Linked DNA regions of Homo sapiens. The protein of the gene in region 1 purifies or fractionates together with the protein of each later gene. This does not show direct contact. Each region holds a gene or a part of one and is shown on either strand. Other genes may lie near its edges.

Region 1 (3,652 bases):
AGCATAAAATTGAACTTTTGTATTATATATACCTTCAGTCAAATGTGCAGTTCTTGCTAACATATATCTTGTGTTTTGAGGTTAACAAAGTACTTTTTCACATATTCTGTGTCAGTTTTTTCCCAAAGTCCTGTGAGATAGGATTATTTTGTAGACAATGAAAGGGAGACTGAAAGATTGAAGAGAAATAGCCCAAACTCACACACAGCTACTACAGGGCAGATTGAGATTTGAAACTAATTTGGGTTTCTTTTGTACATGTTATTTTAAGACCACCACCAAACCGTGAACAATTGTTTATGTTGTATGTGTTCCTTAAAAAACAATTGTTCCAGGTGCAGTGGCTCACGCCTGTAATCCCAGCACTTTGGGAGGCTGAGGCAGGCAGATCAGAAGGTCAGGAGTTCAAGACCAGCCTAGCCAACATGGTGAAACCCTGTCTCTACGAAAAATACAAAAATTAGCCAGGTGTGGTGGTGCGTGCCTGTAATCCCAGCTACTTGGGAGGCTGAGGCAGGAGAATCGCTAGAACCCGGGAGGCAGAGGTTGCAGTGAACCGAGATCATGCATTGCACCCCAGCCTGGGCAATAGAGTGAGACTCTGTCTCGAAAAAATAAAAAATAAAAAATAAGCCGGGTGTGGTGGCTCATGCCTGTAATCCCAGCACTTTGGGAGGCTGAGGTGGGTGGATCACGAGGGCAAGAGATCGAGACCATCCTGGCAAATATGGTGAAACCCCGTCTCTACTAAAAATACAAAAATTAGCCAGGTGTGGTGACAGGCGCCTGTAATCCCAGCTCCTTAGGAGGCTGAGGCAGGAGAATTGCTTGAACCTGGGAGACGGAGGTTGTGGTGAGCCGAGATCGCGCCATTGCACTCCAGCCTGGGCAACAAGAGCGAAACTCCGTCTCAAAAAAATGAAAAACAGAAGATTGCTAATCAGAAACATGGGATTTGAGCCTCTAAATAGCTATTGACTGATTAAATACAATGTAAAATGTATCCTTTGGGACTTATCTTCCTCTGGGGCCTGTTCTGGAATTGCAGGATTGGGTTATGAGTATGAATAAACATGTTAGCAAGCATGTTGTGCTGAGAAGTATTGAAGCTGTGTAATATAGTGAGGAGTTATAGATTTCAGTGTCAGATACAACTTGGTTTAAATCCTGGCTTGGCTATATATTAGTTGTTTAAGAAGCCATTTCAGCTAGCTCACAAATTCGTTAAGTGTGGCCTGTGGACCCTTGGGTCTCTAAGGTGGTACAGAGGCAATGGAGGGTAAAACTGCTCGTGCCTTAGCATGAACCAAGGGAATGACACTAGAATATACTGATTATCATTGAGTTCTTCACCAACATGCCTGCACAGTAAAATAAAATGCCAGTTTCACTTAACTCTCAATCCTTTAGAATATCCATTATTTGAAAAGTCTGGCTGGGCATGATGGCTCATGCCTATAATCCCAGCACTTTGGGAGGCTGAGGTGGGAGGATCGCTTGAAGCCATGGGTTCAAGACCAGCCTGGGCAACCAAATGATACCCCCCCCCCCCCCCCCCATCTCAAACTCCTGACCTCAGGTGATCCACCTGCCTTGGCCTCCCAGAGTGCTGGGATTACAGGCGTGAGCCACTGCGTCCGGCCTGAGACTCCCCATCTCTAAAAAAAAAAAATTTTTTTTTTTTGAGACAGAGTTTCTCTCTTGTTATCCAGGCTGGAGTGCAATGGCACGATCCTGGCTCACTGCAACCTCTGCCTCCCAGGTTCAAGCGATTCTCCTGCCTCAGCCTCCTGAGTAGCTGAGATTACAGGCATGTGCCACCACGCCTGACTAACTTTTTGTATTTTTAGTTGAGATGGGGTTTTTCCATGTTGCTGAGGCTGGTCTTGAACCCCTGACCTCATGTGATCCTCCTGTCTCCTGTCTCGGCCTCCCAAAGTGCTGGGATTACAGGCGTGAGTCACCATGCCCGGCCTTTTTTTTATTTCTTTTTTTTTTTTTTTTTTTTGGACAGGGTCTCGCTCTGTCACCCAAGCTGGAGTGCAGTGGTGTGATCTCAGTTCATTGCAGCCTCTGCCTCCCGGGTTCAAGTGATTCTTGTGCCTCAGCATCCCGAGTAGCTGGGACTACAGGCACGCACCACCACGCCTGGCTGATTTTTGTATTTTTAGTAGGGATGGGATTTTGCCCTGTTGGCCAGGCTGGTCTCGAACTCCTGGCCTCTTGTGATCCACCTGCCTCAGCCTCCCAGAGTGCTGGGACTACAGGTGTGAGCCGCTGCACCTGGCCCCCATCTCTAAAAATATTAAAAAGAAAAAAATTAGCCAGGCTTGGTGGTGTGAGTCTGTAAGTCCTAGCTCCTCAAGAGGCTAAGGTGGAAGCATTGCTTGAGCCCAGGAGTTTGAGGCTATAGTCAGCTATTATTGTGCCACTGCACTCCAGCCTGGGCAGCAGAGTGAGACCCCATCTAAAAAGAAAAAGAAAAAAGTCTGTGTGATGAAATGGGAAGTATGCATAAAGCATATCTACTGCATGCTGAAGAAAGATAGTTTACTCAAGGAAAAGTAGTTGTGGGTTGGGCACGGTGGCTCACACCTGTAATCCCAGCACCAGATCACCTGAGGTCGGGAGTTCAAGATCAGCCTGGCCAACATGGCAAAACCCCATCTTTACTAAAAAATATAAAAAATTGCCAGGTGTGGTGGTGGGTGCCTGTAATCCCAGCTACTCAGGGACTAAGGCAGGGAAAATTACTTGAACCTGGGAGGCGGATGTTGCAGTAAGCTGAGATCTCACCATTGCACTCCAGCCTGGGTGACAGAGTGAGACTCTGCTAAAAAAAAAAAAAAAAAGAAAAAGAAAAATACTTGTGAAATTCTTTGAGTCATGAGTTAAAATAACTGCTTTTTTATGGAACACTATTTTTACTTGAGAATGACTGACAAACTGTGATTATTTAGACTTGGGTATTTGGCAACTATATTTGCAAAAGTGAAGGAAGTGGGCCAGTCACTTCAAGGAGAACAATTGACAGTATTTGTTGCCGATGACAAAATTTGAATTTACTAATGAAAAATTGGAATTTTGGAAAATCTGAGTCCACCACTATGGGGCTAACAGTTTCCGACACTTAAAAGACTTTCCTGAGATGAAATGAGCAGTGATATTAACAAATATGGTTTTTTGATGATATAAAATGCAATGTCATTTTCATTTTTCAAATTACTAGTTTACCATTTACTCAAAGTGTAAGATAACAAATGTAACAGGGTATGAAAGATGACTATTATAGGCCAGGCCTGGTGACTCACACCTGCAATCCCAGCACTTTGGGAGGCCGTGGCAAGCGGATCGCTTGAGCCCAGGAGTTTGAGACCAGCCTGAGCAACATGGTGAAACCCTGTCTCTACTAAAAATACAAAAATTAGCCAGGTGTGGAGGTACGTGCCTGTAATCTCGGCTACTTAGGTGGCTGAGGCATGAGAATTGCTTGAACCTGGGAGGTGGAGGTTGCACTGAGCTGAGAATGTGCCACTGTACTCCAGCCTGGACAACAGGGAGAGATCCTGTCTCCAAAAAAAAAAAAAAAAAAGCAAAAGATTACTGTTATGGTTTCAGATTTCATATTGCGATTAACTTTTAAGTGTCATAA
Region 2 (3,652 bases), on another chromosome or scaffold:
TGTTGGGATTACAGGCATGAGCCCCCGTGCTCAGCCTATTGTTGTTTTTGAATACTTTTTAAAATTGTGGTGAAATACATACAACATGAAATTTTCATTTTAACTATTATTTTGGTGTATAGTTCAGTGGTGTTAAGTACATTCTACTGTTGTGCAACCGTCACCACCATCCATTTCCAGAACTTTTTCATCTTTCTGAACTCAAGCTTTGCATCCATTAAACAATGATTTCTGTCTCCCCCTTTCCCCATCTCCTGGCAACTGTCACCATTCTATTTTCTATGAATTTGACTGTTATAGGTACCTCATATAAGTGGAATCATATAGTATTTGTTCAATTTGTAAGTAATTTACTTCATTTAACATAAAGTTTTCAAGGTTCATCTACATTGTAGCATGTGTCAGAACTTGTTTATTTTTTGAGGCTGAATAATATTCCATTGTTTTTATATGCCATGTTCTGTTTATTCATTCACCCATTGTTGGATATGTGGGTTGTTTTCACCCTTTTACTATTGTGAATAATGTTGCTGTGAACACTGGTGTACAAATATCTGAGTCCCTGCTTTAAATTCTTCTGCGTGTATACCCATGAGTGGAATTGCTGGATCATATGATAATTCTGTGTGTAACCTTTTGAGGAATCACCAGACTTTTCCACAGTGATTGCACCATTTTACATTCCTACCAACAGTACACAAAGGTGTCGGTTTCTCCACATCCTCGCCAATATGTGTTTTCTGTTTTTTTAATAGTAGCCATACTAATGGGTATGTAGTGGTATCTCTCATTGTGGTTTTTGATTTGCATTTCCTAATCTTAGTGATATTGAGCATCTATTCATGTGCATATTGTTTGTTTGTATATCTTCTTTGAAGAAATGTCTATTCAAATCCTTTGCTTGCTTTTTTTTTTTTTTTTTTTTAAATTTTTTCCAGACAGGTTCTTGCTCTGTTCCCCAGGCTGGAGTACAGAGGCATGATGATCATGGCTCACTGCAGCCTCAACTTCCCAGGCTCAAGTGATTCTCCTACCACAGCCTCCTAAGTAGCTGGGACTACAGGCACACACCACCGTGCCTGGCTAATTTTTAAATTTTTTGTAGAGATGAGGTCTCACAGTGTTACTCAGGCTAGTCTCGAACTCCTGGGCTCAGGCAATTTTCCTGACAGCCTCCCAAAGTGCTGTCATTTTTTGTTGTTGTTAGGAGTTTTAGGTGTTTTTTATATATTCTAGGTATTATTCCCTTTCAAATACATGATTTACAAATATTTCCTCCTTTTTGTGGGTAGTCTTTTCATTCTCTTGATAGCGTCCTTTGTTGCACAGTAGTTTTTAACTTTGATGAAGTACAGTTTAACTACTTTTTCTTTTATTGCCTGTGCTTTTGGTATCATGTCAAAGAAACCATTGCCAAATCCAGTGTCCTGAAGCTTTTCCCTATGTTTTCTTCTAAGAGTTTTATAGTTTGAGGTCTTTGATCTAGTTCAAGTTAATTTTTTTATATGGTTTAAAATAAGGATCCAGCTTCATTGTTTTGCATGTGGATATCTGGTTTTCCTAGTGCTATTTATTGAAAAGACTGTCCTTTCCCTATTGACTGATTTTGGCATCCTTGTCGAGGGTCATTTGACTAAGTATGTGAGGATTTATTTCTGGGCTCTCTATTCCATTCCATTAGTCTGTGTATCTGTCTTTATGCCAGTTCCACACTTTTTGATTTGCAGTAAGTTCTGAAATTTGACTCCCCCAGCTAATATTATTTTGGCTGGGCTCAGTGGCTCATGCCTGTAATCCTAGCTCTTTGGGAGGCCGATGGGGGTGGATCACTTGAGGCCAGGAGTTCGCGATCAGCCTGGCCAACATGGCAAAACCCCCCATCTCTACCAGAAAACTACAAAAATTAGCTGGCATGGTAGTACACACACCTGTAGTCCCAGCTACTCACAGCTACTCAAGAGGCTAAGGCAGGAGAATCGCTTGAACTCGGGAGGCGAAAGTTGCAGGAAGCCCAGATCACACCACTGCACTCCAGCCTGGGCAACAGAGCAAGGCTCTGTCTCAAAAAGAGAGATTCTTTTGATGTTAGATTCCATATGAATTTTTGGATAGATCTTTCTATTTCTGCAAAAATTGTCATTGGGATCTTAAGGGGACAACCACTTGTTTTTAACTGATTTTTCTGCATGGACCTCCTTGTGCCATAGCAGCACAGCTATTTGAGAGTTTAAGGCTCTATAAAATGTTTAATTAAGGCTTCTATAGGGTAGTATGCATTATAAAATCTGAAATGATCCAGCCTGGATTTAGATTATGCAAGTTTCTTTGCTTGTATCTTCTCTTTTGGTAAGAAAGAACATACCTAGAAAGTAGACAGCCTCCTTTAGGGAGGAAATAGTATTTGACATGGATATGTCTTGGGAATTGCGTTTCTTTTGCTAGGTAATCTAAGAATTTGTGTAGGCTTTTAGTATGGAGTAGTTTTAGGGTGACTGCTTTAAAACTTCAAAGCTATAGAAATGACCCTCTAAATTGAGAGAATAAAGTCACTTTTAAAGACTGTTAAGCCGTAATTCATGGTAGTATGTAAAAGTAAAATTTTATTTCATTTTAGCATGCCAATGAAGATGTGGAAAGAATGTTACTAGGAAACAAGTGTGATATGGACGACAAAAGAGTTGTACCTAAAGGAAAAGGAGAACAGGTAAAAATCTGAATTAAACTGATACTCTGCTCTGTCTTTGTAAAGGTAATGCTACTTTTGATTATTTTTATAGTAATAGTGATCGAACACACTAAGCTAATTACATAGTTTTTAAAATGCTTGTTGGAAATAATATTTTATCATTTGAGTGAATTTTTTTTCAGTGCATATTTAACATGTATGGGAGAATCAAATGTGCCCATAGTATTTTTAGCCTTATTTAAACTACAAAGAGAGAAAAATATAAGTCATTAATCCTCGGTTTTTAAACTTAGGACTTTAAGGAAATGTATCAATTAGTATGGTTCTAAAATGTGACAATCAGGAGCCTATGGTGAGCAGAAATTAGACCCTGAGGAGTCAGGTTGAGCTTCTCATAAGTTTGCCCCCAGTGTGAAGTATCTGACTTAGAATATCTGAAATAAACTTTTGGGGTAAGGAGATTACTTTTCTTTTGTTTGTTTTATGAAAGAGCTTGACTTGCTGAAATATTCTGTGTTATATATTCTAGTTGGGACCACTGCCTTCAGAATAAGATTAATATTTAAGCTGTTAAAGTCAGCAGTTGGCAACCCATGCTTGATAATTTTATGATGATATTTTGTTTCTGTTTTAGATTGCAAGGGAGCATGGTATTAGGTTTTTTGAGACTAGTGCAAAAGCAAATATAAACATCGAAAAGGCGTTCCTCACGTTAGCTGAAGATATCCTTCGAAAGGTAAGTTCCTGTTTTTATATCCTGCCAGGTACCTGAGTATCTCTGTTGAATATTTTGTCTATTCTGAAGTACTGGATTTACATACAGAATTTGAGTTTGGGTGGTATTGTTTCTGTAGGGCAGCAGTCCCCAGCCTTTTTGGCACCAAGGACTGGTTTCATGGAAGATAATTTTTCCATGGACCGTACTGGGGGGTAGTTTCACCCAGAAACTACCCCACCTCAGATCAT
Region 3 (3,227 bases), on another chromosome or scaffold:
CCCAGAGCTTTGAGGATTTGGAAAGCTGGGGCTAGGACCTTTCTAGCTAACTTGGGCTCTTTCTTAGATGTCTCACCTGTTCAATGTGGCACACACACTGCGTATGATGGTGCAGAAGGAGCGGAGCCTCGACATCCTGAAGGTCAGGATCAGGGCCGGGGGTAGGGTCCAGGCCATCGCCTGCCCTTGGGCCGCATCAGCGCAGGGCCGCGCAGTGGTCAGAGTGGGTCTTCCTCCCCCTGCCATCCCGTCCCCTTATGCTAGTCCATCCCTCTGCTGCTGTAGATCTTCCCCCACGTTTTCCCTCCCCAAAGCAGGATTTAGCTGGCTGGGGAGGCCCTGAGCATGAGACCATCGCCCCACTAGTGGGGTCTTCTGGTCTGGGCTGCTGCAATCATGGGAGAGAGCTAGGGTGTGTCCTCCTTTCCCAGCTCGTTCAGACACTTAATGATGGGTGGTTTTCTGGAGGCAGAGCCTTTAGCTCAGAGTGACACCAGTGGTGGAAACGTCAAGGCTCTGACAGGTCACAGGGGAGGTTTGGGTGCAGAAGGGTCCTCACAGCACCCCTCAAGTGTCAGTTGGGGTGGTGGTGCCTAGCTGGGGTTTCCCCAGGGTGGACACGCATACGTACACCTTCCATCTTGCTCTTTCCCTAGGGGAAGGTCATGGCCTCCATGTTCTATGAAGTGAGCACACGGACCAGCAGCTCCTTTGCAGCAGCCATGGCCCGGCTGGGAGGTGCTGTGCTCAGCTTCTCGGAAGCCACATCGTCCGTCCAGAAGGGCGAATCCCTGGCTGACTCCGTGCAGACCATGAGCTGCTATGCCGACGTCGTCGTGCTCCGGCACCCCCAGCCTGGAGCAGTGGAGGTGAGGCCAGCCTGGGTACTGAGATGGGGTTAAGAAGGCTGGACCCAGGGGCATGAGAACCCTTCTGCCCACGTTTTCTGTGTTTTGGGCCAGATGAGTGAGGGGACCCCAGAAGAGGGGGACTGGCAGTTGGGGGGCCTCTGAGCTGCAAAAGACAGGATTTTCCCCTTTTTTCCAGCTGGCCGCCAAGCACTGCCGGAGGCCAGTGATCAATGCTGGGGATGGGGTCGGAGAGCACCCCACCCAGGCCCTGCTGGACATCTTCACCATCCGTGAGGAGCTGGGAACTGTCAATGGCATGACGGTGAGGGTGGTGGCAGGGTTTGGATCCCTGCCAGGGGACGATCTAGAGAGGGAGGCAGGAAGTGGTTACCCCGGTACAGGACAGCTGCATCAAGGAGGCCTTCATTCTGCTCCAGAGGCTTTTAAAAGCTTGGAAATGATGTCGGGGGGCACTCAGTCTGGGATCCCTGTGGTGACTGGATTCCTCTCCTAGATCACGATGGTGGGTGACCTGAAGCACGGACGCACAGTACATTCCCTGGCCTGCCTGCTCACCCAGTATCGTGTCAGCCTGCGCTACGTGGCACCTCCCAGCCTGCGCATGCCACCCACTGTGCGGGCCTTCGTGGCCTCCCGCGGCACCAAGCAGGTGAGACCCTCACAGCCCTGCCTGGAAGCCATGGAGATGTGGGTTGGGCAGTCAGAGCCCAGCGCTGCATCCACCATGGCTCTCCTCACCCTCCAGGAGGAATTCGAGAGCATTGAGGAGGCGCTGCCTGACACTGATGTGCTCTACATGACTCGAATCCAGAAGGAACGATTTGGCTCTACCCAGGAGTACGAAGCTGTGAGTGCTGGGCTTGAGGAAGAAGCCAGGGCTGCTGCCGTAGGGCATCAGATATGAGGACAGAAAGGCTGGGCTGAGGGCTGGGTCAGAGCTGTTAAACTTCACATCTGTCAATTGCCATAGCTGCATGTGGGTGTGGAGGGGACCCCAGTGGAGCCCAGACTTGTGTCCTCTGTAGCCACTCCTACCCCAAGGCACTAATGGGGACCCCATCTGCTTTGCAGTGCTTTGGTCAGTTCATCCTCACTCCCCACATCATGACCCGGGCCAAGAAGAAGATGGTGGTGATGCACCCGATGCCCCGTGTCAACGAGATAAGGTGGTGCAGCATCAGAGTCAGAGACTGCCTCGGGGCTGGTGGACGGGAGGAGACTTAGTCCTGGACAAGCCATCCATGGGCTGCACGATAACACTTCCTTTTTTTTTTTTTTTTTTTTTGCAGCGTGGAAGTGGACTCGGATCCCCGCGCAGCCTACTTCCGCCAGGCTGAGAACGGCATGTACATCCGCATGGCTCTGTTAGCCACCGTGCTGGGCCGTTTCTAGGGCCTGGCTTCCTCAGCCTCTTCTCTTTAGGCCCAGCTGCTGGGCAAGGAATTCCAGTGCCTCCTACGGGGGCAGCACACTTAGATATTCCTGGACATCCAGATAGCTCACATGTGCTGACCACACTTCAGGCTCTGGACTGGAGCTCTCTGGCATGGGGGTGGGGCCTCAGATGCTGGGGCCCAGTCTGCCCCATCTTCATTCCTGCACCTTAAACCTGTACAGTCATTTTTCTACTGACTTAATAAACAGCCGAGCTGTCCCTTGATGCTGAGTGTAGTAGAACAGAGCTTTCTTTTAGAAAATTGAGCAGATTCCCAAATTATAAGAGCAGCCTCACCAGGCAGGGCTCTGGCTAGGGCTGCGTGCCCACACTCGGCATTTTCACACTCGTGACTCTTTGGGACTCGGCAGGAGCGTGTTAACTCTGTGCTCTCTGAGTCCTGTGTCGTGCTGATGCCAGCGCTTACCTGGGGGCTCTGGCTGGTGTCCAGCCCTCCTTCCTCAATTCAGTTGACTCAAAGACCTGACAGAGAGTTCTGCCCTCTTCCTGACACTGGGAGAACACTCATCAGGGTAAAAGGAAGGCTGAGCACTGCGGCCTGTCTGAGGCCAGGCCTGGACTCTTCCTCACTCTTTCTGGTTAGTCCTCCTCCAGTGGCTAAGGCTGCCATTGCATTCTCAAAACCACCCTGGAGTTCTTCAGCCACTGTCACTATTAGGAGCCCCTCCTATTTCCCATCCCTGGGAGCCTCTGCCTGACATTGGACAGAGGGGCAGATGCCATGGAGGGCTGAGGAGCACTTTGGCTTGGAGACCCCAGGGCAGCAGCCTAAGGGCAGTAGCTTATGTGTCTGTGGGTGAGGGCTTCTGAGGAGCAGCTGTGCCCTCCAGTGAACTTGAGTAGCATTGGAGAAATCTCATTTCTTGTTCCAACAAAACTTAGCACTCTGTGGGTACAAA

Evidence for each region.
Region 2: the proteins of PPP6C (region 1) and RAB10 purify together in Homo sapiens (affinity purification with mass spectrometry, with the first as the bait; one large-scale study listed by BioGRID). This does not show direct contact.
Region 3: the proteins of PPP6C (region 1) and CAD purify together in Homo sapiens (affinity purification with mass spectrometry, with the first as the bait; one large-scale study listed by BioGRID). This does not show direct contact.

Annotation. Positions count from the first base shown.
Region 1 is NC_000009.12:125,165,736-125,169,387, reverse strand, and holds part of PPP6C (serine/threonine-protein phosphatase 6 catalytic subunit), read left to right. Parts: intron 1-3,652.
Region 2 is NC_000002.12:26,124,530-26,128,181, forward strand, and holds part of RAB10 (ras-related protein Rab-10), read left to right. Parts: intron 1-2,614; coding exon 2,615-2,704; intron 2,705-3,320; coding exon 3,321-3,422; intron 3,423-3,652. UniProt on the Homo sapiens protein: The small GTPases Rab are key regulators of intracellular membrane trafficking, from the formation of transport vesicles to their fusion with membranes.
Region 3 is NC_000002.12:27,241,255-27,244,481, forward strand, and holds the end of CAD (multifunctional protein CAD), read left to right. Parts: intron 1-67; coding exon 68-142; intron 143-656; coding exon 657-869; intron 870-1,047; coding exon 1,048-1,173; intron 1,174-1,365; coding exon 1,366-1,521; intron 1,522-1,617; coding exon 1,618-1,719; intron 1,720-1,943; coding exon 1,944-2,038; intron 2,039-2,161; coding exon 2,162-2,264; 3' UTR 2,265-2,689; downstream 2,690-3,227. UniProt on the Homo sapiens protein: Multifunctional protein that encodes the first 3 enzymatic activities of the de novo pyrimidine pathway: carbamoylphosphate synthetase (CPSase; EC 6.3.5.5), aspartate transcarbamylase (ATCase; EC 2.1.3.2) and dihydroorotase (DHOase; EC 3.5.2.3).